Linked DNA regions of Homo sapiens. The protein of the gene in region 2 interacts with the protein of the main gene of each other region in a biochemical or structural test. Each region holds a gene or a part of one and is shown on either strand. Other genes may lie near its edges.

Evidence for each region.
Region 1: the proteins of IFT81 (region 2) and UBXN10 form a complex in vitro, tested with the Homo sapiens proteins (one study listed by BioGRID).
Region 3: the proteins of IFT81 (region 2) and POLI form a complex in vitro, tested with the Homo sapiens proteins (one large-scale study listed by BioGRID).

Annotation. Positions count from the first base shown.
Region 1 is NC_000001.11:20,184,909-20,188,895, reverse strand, and holds the start of UBXN10 (UBX domain-containing protein 10), read right to left. Parts: upstream 2,801-3,987; 5' UTR 2,743-2,800; exon of another isoform or gene 276-2,742; intron 1-275. UniProt on the Homo sapiens protein: VCP/p97-binding protein required for ciliogenesis. Acts as a tethering factor that facilitates recruitment of VCP/p97 to the intraflagellar transport complex B (IFT-B) in cilia.
Region 2 is NC_000012.12:110,144,793-110,148,520, forward strand, and holds part of IFT81 (intraflagellar transport protein 81 homolog), read left to right. Parts: intron 1-2,160; coding exon 2,161-2,256; intron 2,257-3,728. UniProt on the Homo sapiens protein: Component of the intraflagellar transport (IFT) complex B: together with IFT74, forms a tubulin-binding module that specifically mediates transport of tubulin within the cilium. Binds tubulin via its CH (calponin-homology)-like region.
Region 3 is NC_000018.10:54,289,882-54,293,609, forward strand, and holds part of POLI (DNA polymerase iota isoform a (long)), read left to right. Parts: intron 1-1,951; coding exon 1,952-2,157; intron 2,158-3,728. UniProt on the Homo sapiens protein: Error-prone DNA polymerase specifically involved in DNA repair. Plays an important role in translesion synthesis, where the normal high-fidelity DNA polymerases cannot proceed and DNA synthesis stalls. Favors Hoogsteen base-pairing in the active site.

The DNA.
Region 1 (3,987 bases), on a different chromosome or scaffold from region 2:
CGTTGTTTGCTTCGGGTTGTCTGTTTAGTGCTTCCTATGTGCTAAGTTCAAAAGCCTTCCTTGTTTTGCTCTAGAACTTTTCCCCGTGTGTCCTCGGTGATTCTACTCCTGGTTAACCAGCTGGGTGAGTCCTGAAACTCATGCCTGCCCTGTCCACTGCACAGAAATGCAGGGAGGTGGACTGCAATGAGCTACCACCTACGCAGTTGCCTCAAAACATGTGAAAATAAAATCCCGAGTTGATCACTTCTCTTCTAATTCCACATTTTACTTACCTCAGATTCACTTCCTGCAGAATGATTTGCACTTCCTGCAAATTCACTCCTTTCATCACAAAATCTTGAACAATGTAATCTGAGCCTCTCAGGGTTTGTATTCTAACCTCACCATTCTGCACATGTAACCACTGCTGCCTAATTTTAAGGAGTATCTGCTTCCTCTCCACTCAGACCAGGACCAAACGCAACACATTATCCCTATATCTTCCTGATGTCCTGCTCAATTCAAAATCTTGGACAAAGCTACCCTCTTTTAAAGGCCTCTATGTCTGCTGCATTCCACTCACAGCCTGAGTCTCTCTCCACTCCCATTTTCCACTTCTCCCTCGTCTTTCACACCCAGTCTGGCTGCTAGTAGCTCAGGAGCCTTCTCCTTAGCAAACTTTTGGCATCAAAAAAGACTGCCCATCTCCTTGTTAATTTCATCTATTTTCTGATCAACTGTGAAGAATGTGTTTTTCCCCCTTTAGTCTCCTTCTCAAGTCTTTCTCTGGCAATTAGCAGCTCTGCACTTTCACTCAGGATGGCAGGAGAAGGTCATAACTGTCCAACTGTTCTGCCAAAGATAAGCTCCACAGGCAAACCCACGCCCCTCTCGGCCCACCCTCCCCACTTGTGGAATGGCTATTAATTTGCCACAGCTTCTACAGAATTATCACAGGCTTGGCTTCCAACACCCACACATGCCTCAGGAAGGTTTAACTGTCAGTGAGTTTGGTAACTTAGAAACCTCTTCCTTAACAACTTTGATGAGGAGAGTCATGTGTTCTCACAGGCTCTCTGTGGGATTATTTTTAACAGTAAAACTTGAGTATGTGCATGCACTTTCTATACCTTTTGGTTCCATATAATTATCCATGTTCAGGGGGTGTCATATTCAAGACACCCTGGTCATAAGATAACATGACTGTGAGCTATCTCAGAGAAAAACCTCAATTATGACTAATTCCTAGGAGCCCACTCATGGTTATTTAGAGACTAACACCTCCTTCAGGTAAAACCATTATATCCAACCTGCTTTCATAACCCACTGCCTCCTCCCGAGCACAGGGACCATCTGTTACACGGAGGGAACACCAGCTCTCCCCAGCACCCATCACACAGGGATGGGCGGTGGGGGAAACAGGTGTTTGGGGATCTGGGCCAACTGTGCCTTTATATTCACACCTCAGGTCCTGAACTCTGCCCACCACCCTCAGTCCAGGATTGAGGCAGCAGCCATGATTCTCCCTGCTCAGTTCACTTCACCACCTCTAGGCCTGGCAGCCACTCAACCACAAACCGATTTGACAAGATCTAGGCGTAGGCATCTATCAAGCTGCCAAGCTGAATAGGCGAGTGGCCTGTTTACTTAAACACAATAGCTGCACCCCAGCGGCCTGCTAGGAGTCAGGAAGCAAACACTGCCAACTGTTTCCAAGAAGTTGCCAGAAGGGCAGGTGCCCATTCCTTAAGATTCACCACCAAATCAACTGGAAAGAAGGAAATGTGGATAGGAGAAGCTAAAGCAGGGCTCCTGCTTTCTAAGGGTGCCCACCACCCACCACAGGGTCAGACCACCCTATTTCACTCACAACCCAAATCTAAGCCTACAGTATATGCAGTAAAATATAACCACCTACATACCATCTGCTGGTATATACCAAGATACATACATTTGAATTGGTCTTTTAAAACTGTATCAGTTAATCCTATCCGTTGCCATCCCGCCCCCCCCAACCCACACCCCCACCAGGCTTTCAGGATAAAAATGCTCTGAAGAACCAACAGGAGATGGTGGTTGGCCTGAGAATGAAAAAACTCTGGTACCATTCCCAGTTCTACCCCAAACTAGGGATTAGAATACACTGTCCTATGCAGAGTGCCACACTGAACCACAAGCCACCAAGTGATCAAATGTTTGGATAGAGAACTGGGGATGATTCCAGCGTCAGAAGGGCAGGGAGGTGGTGGGGATAACTCAATTAAGTCCAAGTTCCAGCGCCCTAGAAGGCAACAGGCTTAAGAGGCAGAGGAGGGATCTGGGGGAGGGGCGAGAAAGAGCGTTTAGAAAGCGAGAATTGACTTCAGAGAAAGAGCACAGGACTGGGGGAGGGGCCCTCTGGTTCTCGTCTCTGCCCTGCCGGAGACTGGGACATCCTTTTCTCTCCCTGGGTCTGTGTCCCCGTCGCTACATCCCAGCCTGGAGGGCATGGCCCAGCGGTTGCATAGGTCCCTCGGTTTCTGCAGAGCCCGGGAGTCACCCTATTTTGGTAAAGGTGAGCTCTGGCCAGGCTTGCTTTGCCTCGGGAGCAGACTTTTCTCCAGGCTCCTCGCCTGTCTCCCGGGGTTTGCGTCCCCCGGGCTGGGTCTGGGGAGGCCCTCCCGGGTGATGTGCTGGGGTCTCGGGGACTGGCCTCCCCCGGCCCCTTCCAGGCCTGGCGGAGGCCAAGGGCAGGCCGCGGGATCGGGCAGCCGCTCTCACCTAGCCGTTCCGCTCCATCCGCCGCCTGCGCCCGGGCTCTGTCCTGCTGGTAAACAACCCTGGTCTCCCGGGCAACGCCGCAGGGTGGGGGGCCACGTGCTTCCGGCGTGACCGGAACCGGCCTGGGTCGGGTGGGGTCGGGTGGGGTCGGGTGGGGGCCGCTGGGCCAGGAGGGCGGAGGCCGTGAACTCCAGGTCGGTGGATTGCGAGCCTGGAGTGGATTGCCTGGCCTGGAGGCGACAGGGACCCGCGGCCTCCTTCTCTCCTCCTCTTCCTAGCGTCACCGCCTCTGTTTCTCTCTGGGGGAGAGTGTCTGGGAGAGGGAGAGCCCTGGCCGGGGCATGGAGGAGCGGGGAGCAGCACCACTAGTCTCAAAATCCGTTTCTCACCTTGGGTCAGGCCCTGACCCTCTCAGTGTCCCTGGTTTTAAAATGAGGCTGTGGGACTGATGGATTCTCGGAACCCTAAACTCTGAGTGGATGCTTCTAGGGTATCTGAGTTGCGGGGAGCAGGGCCCCCATCCTCAGTACAGCCCTTTCAGCGCCAGTTCCCTGACCTCTTTTCACATCAGCCTCCCACTCCGGGGCCACACTGGGAACCTTATCAACAGCATCTGCACCTCCTTTGATGTCCCCAGCCACAATCTCTTCCACTTCCAGCCACTTGAGTCACTTCCGCTGTATCTGTTTTTCACCATCTTTGGGTTTCCTGTCCATTGCTGTCTCCGCTTTCCCCCTCGATATCAATCTGCTTCTTCCCTATCCTGGCCCATTACCTCGGCATTCTCAAAAGGATCCTCCCTGCCCGAGTCCTACTCTCCTTCCATCTGATGAAACCTGAAGCCAAACCAGTCCACCTACACACGGGTATTGAAGAAGTCTTGGCCAGCCACACACCTTGGTGTAACAGAAACACGAGGTCTCTAACCTCAGTTAGACTCTCAGCCCTGCACTTCCATCCCCAACCGACCACTGGGTTCTCTCTCCCTCCTTTCTTCTTTTTCTTCCTTTTTTAAGGGGAGACAGGGTCTCGCCCCTTCACCCAGGCTGGAGTGCAGTGGTGCAATCACAGCTCACTGCAGCCTGGACCTCCCCAGCTCAGCCTCCCTTGTAGCTGGGACTACAGGCGTGCACCACCATGCTTGGCTAATTTTTATTATTTTTTGTAGAATGGGGTTCTGCCATGTTGCTGAGGGTGGTCTTGAAGTCTTGGGCTCAAGTGATCCTCCCGCCTCAGCCTCCCAAA
Region 2 (3,728 bases):
AGCCACTGTGCTTGGCCTGATTATACCATTTTTGTTCCCTAGAATTAAAATGCTAGGTCAGGTGCAGTGCCTTTTTTTTTTTTTTTTTTTTTTTGACGGAACTTGCTCTGTTGCCCAGGCTGGAGTGCAGTGGCACAATCTCAGCTCACTGCAACCTCCACCTTCTGGGTTCAAGCGATTCTTCTACCTCAGCCTCTCGACTAGCTGGGATTACAGGCGCACACCACTATGCCTAATTTTTTTTTTTTTTTTTTTTTTTACACGGAGTCTCACACTGTCACCTAGGCTGGAGTTCAGTGACATGATCACAGCTCACTGCAGCCTCCATCTCCCAGGCTCAAGTGATCCTCCACCTGAGCTTCCCAAGTAGCTGGGACTACAAGGTGCATGCCACCAGTTCTGGCCAATTTTTGAATTTTTTGTACAGACAGGGTCTGGCCATGTTGCCCAGCATGGTCTTGACCTCCCAGATTCAAGAGATCTGCCTGCCTCCGTCCACCTCAGTCTCCCAAAGTGCAGGGATTACAGGTGTGAGCCATTGCACTCAGCCTAATTGAAATGTTTTGACTTGCTAATTCTTTAGTGTGCTTACTATGTGGTTAATAGCCACTACAATTAAATACATAATTCTGACTGTTTTGGTTTTTTTTGTTTTTTTTTTTTTGAGATGGAGTGTAGCTCTGTTGCCCAGGCTGGAGTACAGTGGCGTGATCCCGGCTCACTGCAACCTCTGCCTCCTGGATTCAAGTGAATTCTGCCTCAGCCTCCCCAGTAGCTGGAATTACAGGCACCTGCCACCATGCCCAGCTAATTTTTGTATTTTTAGTAGAGATGGGGTTTCACTGTGTTGGCCAGGCTAGTCTCTAACTCCTGACCTTGTGATCCACCCACCTCAGCCTCCCAAAGTGCTGGGATTACAGGTGTGAGCCACCGCGCCCAGGCCTGACTGTTTTATTCTTTTAATTTACTTAGAAAAATTAAATGTCCAAGTCAGATCTGGCTAAAATTTTGTTTTGTTTTGTTTTGTTTTGTTTTTGAGATGGAGTCTCACTCTGTCACCCAGGCTGGAGTCCAGTGGTGCGATCTCGGCTCACTGCAACCTCCACCTCCTGGGTTCAAGTGATTCTCCTGTCTCAGCCCCTGGAGTAGCCAGGACTACAGGTGCATGCCACCAAGCCCAGCTAATTTTTTGTATTTTTAGTAGAGACGGGGTTTCACCATGTTGGCCAGGCTGGTCTCGACCTCCTGACCTCAGATGATGCACCCGCCTCAGCCTCCCAAAGTGCTTCAATTACAGATGTGAGCCACCGTGCCCGGCCTAATCTGGCTAAAATTTAATGTCACAGAATTAGGGTTAGGGTTAGAGAGAACTCTAATCTTTCAAAGGATGGATACACTGAAAACCATGGTTTTTGTTTTGATATGTTGAGGAACTATATGCTTCTGTCAGATTTATTCAGTTTTATTACATTTTGGAAAGATTTAGATTAATGATTAGGATAAATGATAGTTATCGAAGAATCACAGATTATTAGCACAGGAAGGGTGTTATCCCTGTCAACTGTCAGCTGGGTTCATGAATCATTGTAATAAATCCCTGGTGCATATTTGTTCACATTTGCTTTATCACTTTCAGTGACTTGAAGTCACAACGTAGGTGAGGGGATAACTTCAGATTTTTAGAAAGCATCTTTGTGGTAATGTATAAATATTTCATGTAAAATACTTTAGGATAATTTAGACATAGATGATTAAATCTATATAAGTAATCAAACTGTGTAATTATATGTCATGAAATGTAAATTGTTTCTAAAGGTAATCATAACAAGCTCCCCATAACATTAATGAAACTGTTTTGCCCATCAGAGACTTAATGTTAAGAACTGTAAATTCCAGATGGGTGCCATGGCTCACGTCTGTAATCCCAGCACTTTGGGAGGCCAAGGTGGGAGGATCACTTGAGCCCAGGAATTCAAAATCAGTCTGGGCAACATAGCAAGACCCCATCTCTTAAAAAAAAAATTAGTCTAGGTGAAACTGAGACCTTGTCTTTAAAAAAAAAGAACCATAAATTCAAAGCTGGTTTGGCCAGACGTCACTTAGTTTGTGTACTTATAGGGAAAGTTTTAACTTTTTTTTTTTGCTTTCATGCTATTTTAGATAAATGAAATAAACACAGAAATTAACCAGTTGATTGAAAAGAAAATGATGAGAAATGAGCCCATTGAAGGCAAACTCTCACTGTATAGGCAACAGGTAAGAACATTCTTTTGGCTCACATATTTAGATCTGTAAGCATATTCATGAACCACTGGCTGTGTTATCTATAGTCTTAAAGTGAGAAGGAAGTAGAGAATAAATGTTGTTCTGTCACTGCTAATCTCCATAGTATATCAAAGAATTAGTGGAAAAGCCACAAAAGATGCTTATTCAAGTTTGAAATTACGATACCCCTAATAATGCTTAGTTTCCTTAGCATGTACGAACTGTGGTAATAGAGCTATTTGTGTTTGTATCTGTGACTGTGGAATTTATTTTTAAAATGAAAACTTACCTTAGGTGGTATAAATAAAAATATTTATAATTTTTAATGAGTTAATAACAGTATGCTTTTTCAAGTTTAAAGTTAGTTTGCAAGTGTAGAATAAATTAAATTTTAGTGCTAAAGCATTTATTATTTTATCCACAACTAAATTGTCACTTAGTTTTTGAGGGTACTTATCTTGTTGTATATTTCTATAAAAGATTCAAATGAAGGCCATGGCTTATCTGAAAAGAACCAAGGCAGGAGGATTTTAGTGTGAAGAGCACTCTACAACCTCAGAAAATACTAAGCTACATAACAAAGCATTATTTAAGGACATTAGAATTTTTTAAAACCTTTATAACGGAAAATTTCAATCAATTACAAAGGTAGAGGCAAATTGTTCAATAAACCCTCATGTGTCCCTGAGCTACAGGGCTCATGGCCATTCTTGTTTCCTCTATACTGCCAACCCCAACTATATTATTTTGAAGCATATCTTAGACTTCATCATAACATTTCATCTATAAATGTTTCAGAATATATATCTAAAAGATAAAGGCTTTTTAACTTAACCACAACATACCACATCTGAAAATTTTAATAATTCCTTAATATCAGAAAATATTCAGTCAGCCAGGAAATCAATGACATTCCCTTGTCTCTCTTTTTTTCAATTAAGATCCATATAGGATTCATATATTGCATTTGGCTGATAAGTTATTTATTTATTTATTTATTTTTTGCTGTCACCTATCTGTCCCAGAAAGTTTGTCTCTTTTAATCCATATGTTCTCTTCCCATCGATTTATCTATTTAGTGCTTTTTGGCAATATATGTGTTGACAAAACTGGTTCATTTTTCCCATGATATTTCTAACAGTTTGTGTTTTACTGATTGCAACCCTATGGTGTTGTTTTACCATGTTCATTTGTTTCCCGTATTTCCTATAAATTAGAACTAGGAGCTTGAACAGATCTGGTTTGATTTTTTTTTGGCAAGAAAACTTTCTAGGTGGTATTACATACTTTTATTTGGAAGTGATAATGCTCGGTTGTCTGAGCAGCCACTTACTATTATTGCTCATTGCTTATCCATTAATTTTATTATAAATTATAAAATATTCATATTTTGATTCCTTCTTCATTTATTAGCTGGACTACTTTTTTTTTTTCTTTTGAGATGGAGTCTCACTGTCACCCAG
Region 3 (3,728 bases), on a different chromosome or scaffold from region 2:
AAAACCTAGGCAATAGCATTTAGTACATAAGCATGGGCAAAGACCTCATGACTAAAACACCAAAAGCAATGGCAACAAAAGCCAAAATTGACAGATGGGACCTAATTAAACTAAAGAGCTTCTGCACAGCAAAAGAAACTATCAGCAGAGTGAACAGGCAACCTACAGAATGGGAGAAAATTTTTGCAATCTACCCATCTGACAAAGGGCTAATATCCAGAATCTACAAAGAAGTTAAACAAATTTACAAGAAAAAAGCAAACAACCCCATCAAAAAGTGGGCAAAGGATATGAACAGACACTTTTCAAAAGAAGACATTTATGCTGCCAACAGACATATGAAAAAATGCTCATCATTGCTGGTCATTAGAGAAATACAAATCAAAACCACAATGAGATACCAGCTCATGCCAGTTAGAATGGCGATCATTAAAAAGTCAGGAAACAACAGATGCTGGAGAGGATGTGGAGAAATAGGAACACTTTTACACTGTTGGTGGGAGTGTAAATTAGTTCAACCATTGTGGATGACAGTGTGGTGATTCCTCAAGGATCTAGAACTAGAAATACCATTTGACCCAGTGATCCCATTACTGGGTATATACCCAAAAGATTATAAATCATGCTACTATAAAGACACATGCACGCGTATGTTTATTGTGGCACTATTCACAATAGCAAAGACTTGGAACCAACCCAAATGTCCATCAGTAATAGACTGGATAAAGAAAACGTGTCACATATACATCATGGAATACTATGCAGCCATAAAAAAGGATGAGTTCATGTCCTTTGCAAGGACATGGATGAAGCTGGAAACCATCATTCTCAGCAAACTATCACCAGGATAGAAAACCACACACCACATGTTCTCACTCATAAGTGGGAGTTGAACAACGAGGACACATGGACACAGGGAGGAGAACATCACACACCGGGGCCTATCTGGATGGAGGGCTGAGGGAGGGATAGCATTAGGAGAAATACCTAATGTAAATGAAGAGTTGATAGGTGTAGCAAACTAACACGGTACATGTATACCTATGTAACAAATCTGCACATTGTGCACATGAACCCCAGAACTTAAAGTATAAAAGAAAAAAAATTAGGCCATTTTCAAGTTTTTCTTGAATTTTAATTTCTGCTAGGCCCTCTTTATCTCCCCATGATGTGCATGTAGCCCTTTCAGTAAGGAGTGTATGGGGAGCTTGGGCCCTCTGTGGCCTTCCATTTATTTGCATGTAGCCTCCTAGTCAACTAGGGTTGTACGGGGAGCCTATGTAGTCCCTCTTTGGTTCTCTCATTTCCAAATCTCCTGGTGACATATCTGGCTGGTCCACTGATCTGTCCTTCACCCGAACCACGACTGAAGCTTCAGACTAGCAGAGCTGTGGGATCTTCCCATTCGTTTCCTATCAAATTTGCTCATTTTACTGGCAACACTGCTGAGTGTGGGCTTTTGCCCACTGCCTCAAATCAGGTCTGTCCCCTCTGGAAGTGAAACTGCTGGCTTTTGCAGCCTTCACCCTGTACCAACTGAGCTATGTAAAGGGACATTCGAACAGTCCCAGACAGTGAAGCTGCTATCTCCTACTTTCTTAGCTAACATATAGCAGCTGTTCATAGATCAGTACTTCTCACTTTGTTTGCCTTTGGTTCATTTCCAGATTTCCACCAAAATGATTGTTTTTGACAATGTTGTTCAGTTTTATAGTAGCTTTTTGAGAGAGGATTTTCTGACCATATCAGTGTAGTATAACCAGAAATCCCATATTTCAAATCTTTTGAAAATTTTTAACCATTTAGTATTAATATTGAAATGTCTTAATTTGGTATATAATGTCAAGATGCCCAGTGATATTTAGGATTTTAATTTCTTAATCTCAGCAATATAAAATATATTATGCTCTTAATATTAATTATAATGTTTATTCTTAAACATTTTATTTAGGAAATTATGATGTGATGACCCCAATGGTTGATATACTTATGAAACTTTTTCGAAATATGGTGAATGTGAAGATGCCATTTCACCTTACCCTTCTAAGTGTGTGCTTCTGCAACCTTAAAGCACTAAATACTGCTAAGAAAGGGCTTATTGATTATTATTTAATGCCATCATTATCAACTACTTCACGCTCTGGCAAGCACAGTTTTGTAAGTACACTCTTTTTTGTTCAGTTTTCTAAGTATACTCTTATGGGATTTGTGTGGTTACATTACAAATCTAAGTGCTTGTCTTTTTGATATAGTTTAGAGATTCTTTTGGGTGATATTGTTTAGGTGATTAACTTGTTTATAATACCTATCTTATGGTTTCTGGCCTTAAATATGCTGTGATCTAAGAAGAAAACATAAGCATCACTGGATAAAAGAGAGAACCATTATGGAGGTTCTCTATTTTGGAATTGTTAACACATTTTATAGTATATAAAAATATGATGGATTAGCTCATAAGTATTAAAATATTTGCAGATATTAGAAATCACATCTTTTTGTCTTTTAGCTGACACATGAGCTACTAGTACCTTTCCCATGATTCTTTTGTTAAAGTATTTACATTTTCTTCATTTTGAAATAGTATTGAATTTTGATAGCAATATTGATAGATTTGACTACTGATTTCATAGTTGTAAAGTTAACAGTGTGGCAATAGAAAGGCAGAGGCCAGTCACATTTTCAGACGACTAAAACAAAACCCTTTTATTAATAGACAAACCACTATTTAGTAAATGTGGGTTGCCTTAAAAACAATTATTTTTTACTAAATTGTTCATGCCTATAATTAACTCAATTTAAAATACTTTTGTGTTTGTTTAGTCAGTATAATTTTAGTAACCTTTTCATTTTCATTTAAGTTTAAAGTGAGAACAGGATAGTGTATGGAAATAGTGAATTAATGCTCTCTTCAAATTACTTTTTTCTGTGACCCTTCTTATTCCATTTATTAAATTTAAAAAAGTGTTTTCTTTTTACATTTTAATTAATCTGTGAAATTGGAATTAAAAGTGCTCATTTATAGTGGCATTAGAAAAGTAAATATAAGTGAAAGTACCTTGTATGTATTTGTCACACAGTAGGTAGTCAATAAATATAAGGGCCTGAATCTTTTCTACTACTTTTACTTTTTTGGAGTTCATATTGTGTTGATGTTTACGGAGTTATATTTGACTATGTTTATATTTTTATGGTGCTTGAAACTAAAGGATTTAAATGAAAAACTGTATAGAAAAATTATGCAAGTTAGAGTTGAAAGTGTCTTTAAATTTTTATTTTATATAAATATAAACTAGTACTATATCTTGATGATGTTGGGTTTTGTTATAGGCTTTTTTTTTCTTTTTGTTAAAAGTTACCCTTTAGAATAGTAATTTTTGGAAAACTAGCCCTTGATGCTATATGTGTATGTTTTTTTGAAAAATACCCTTAGGTGAACTTGCTTTTCTAGGCCGCCATTCTTTTATTTATAGAATTGAAAGTTTGGTTGCATGATTGTTACAATCTTCCCAGGTCTCCAAATGCATATTTACCTCTGTCTCAGTGCTATCTAGGAAGGAAACCTCTTCCTGGAATAGTGGGTAGAGATTCACAAAATAGTGTGAATAATTGTGGTAGTAGATCTCTAGTTGTTTGGAACTGGCCACAAAGAGTTGTATTTGTTGAGTAGGTTAGAAACATGTCAGATAATAGCTACAGGCACACAGCAGCAGCAGCGATATTTAAAAGAT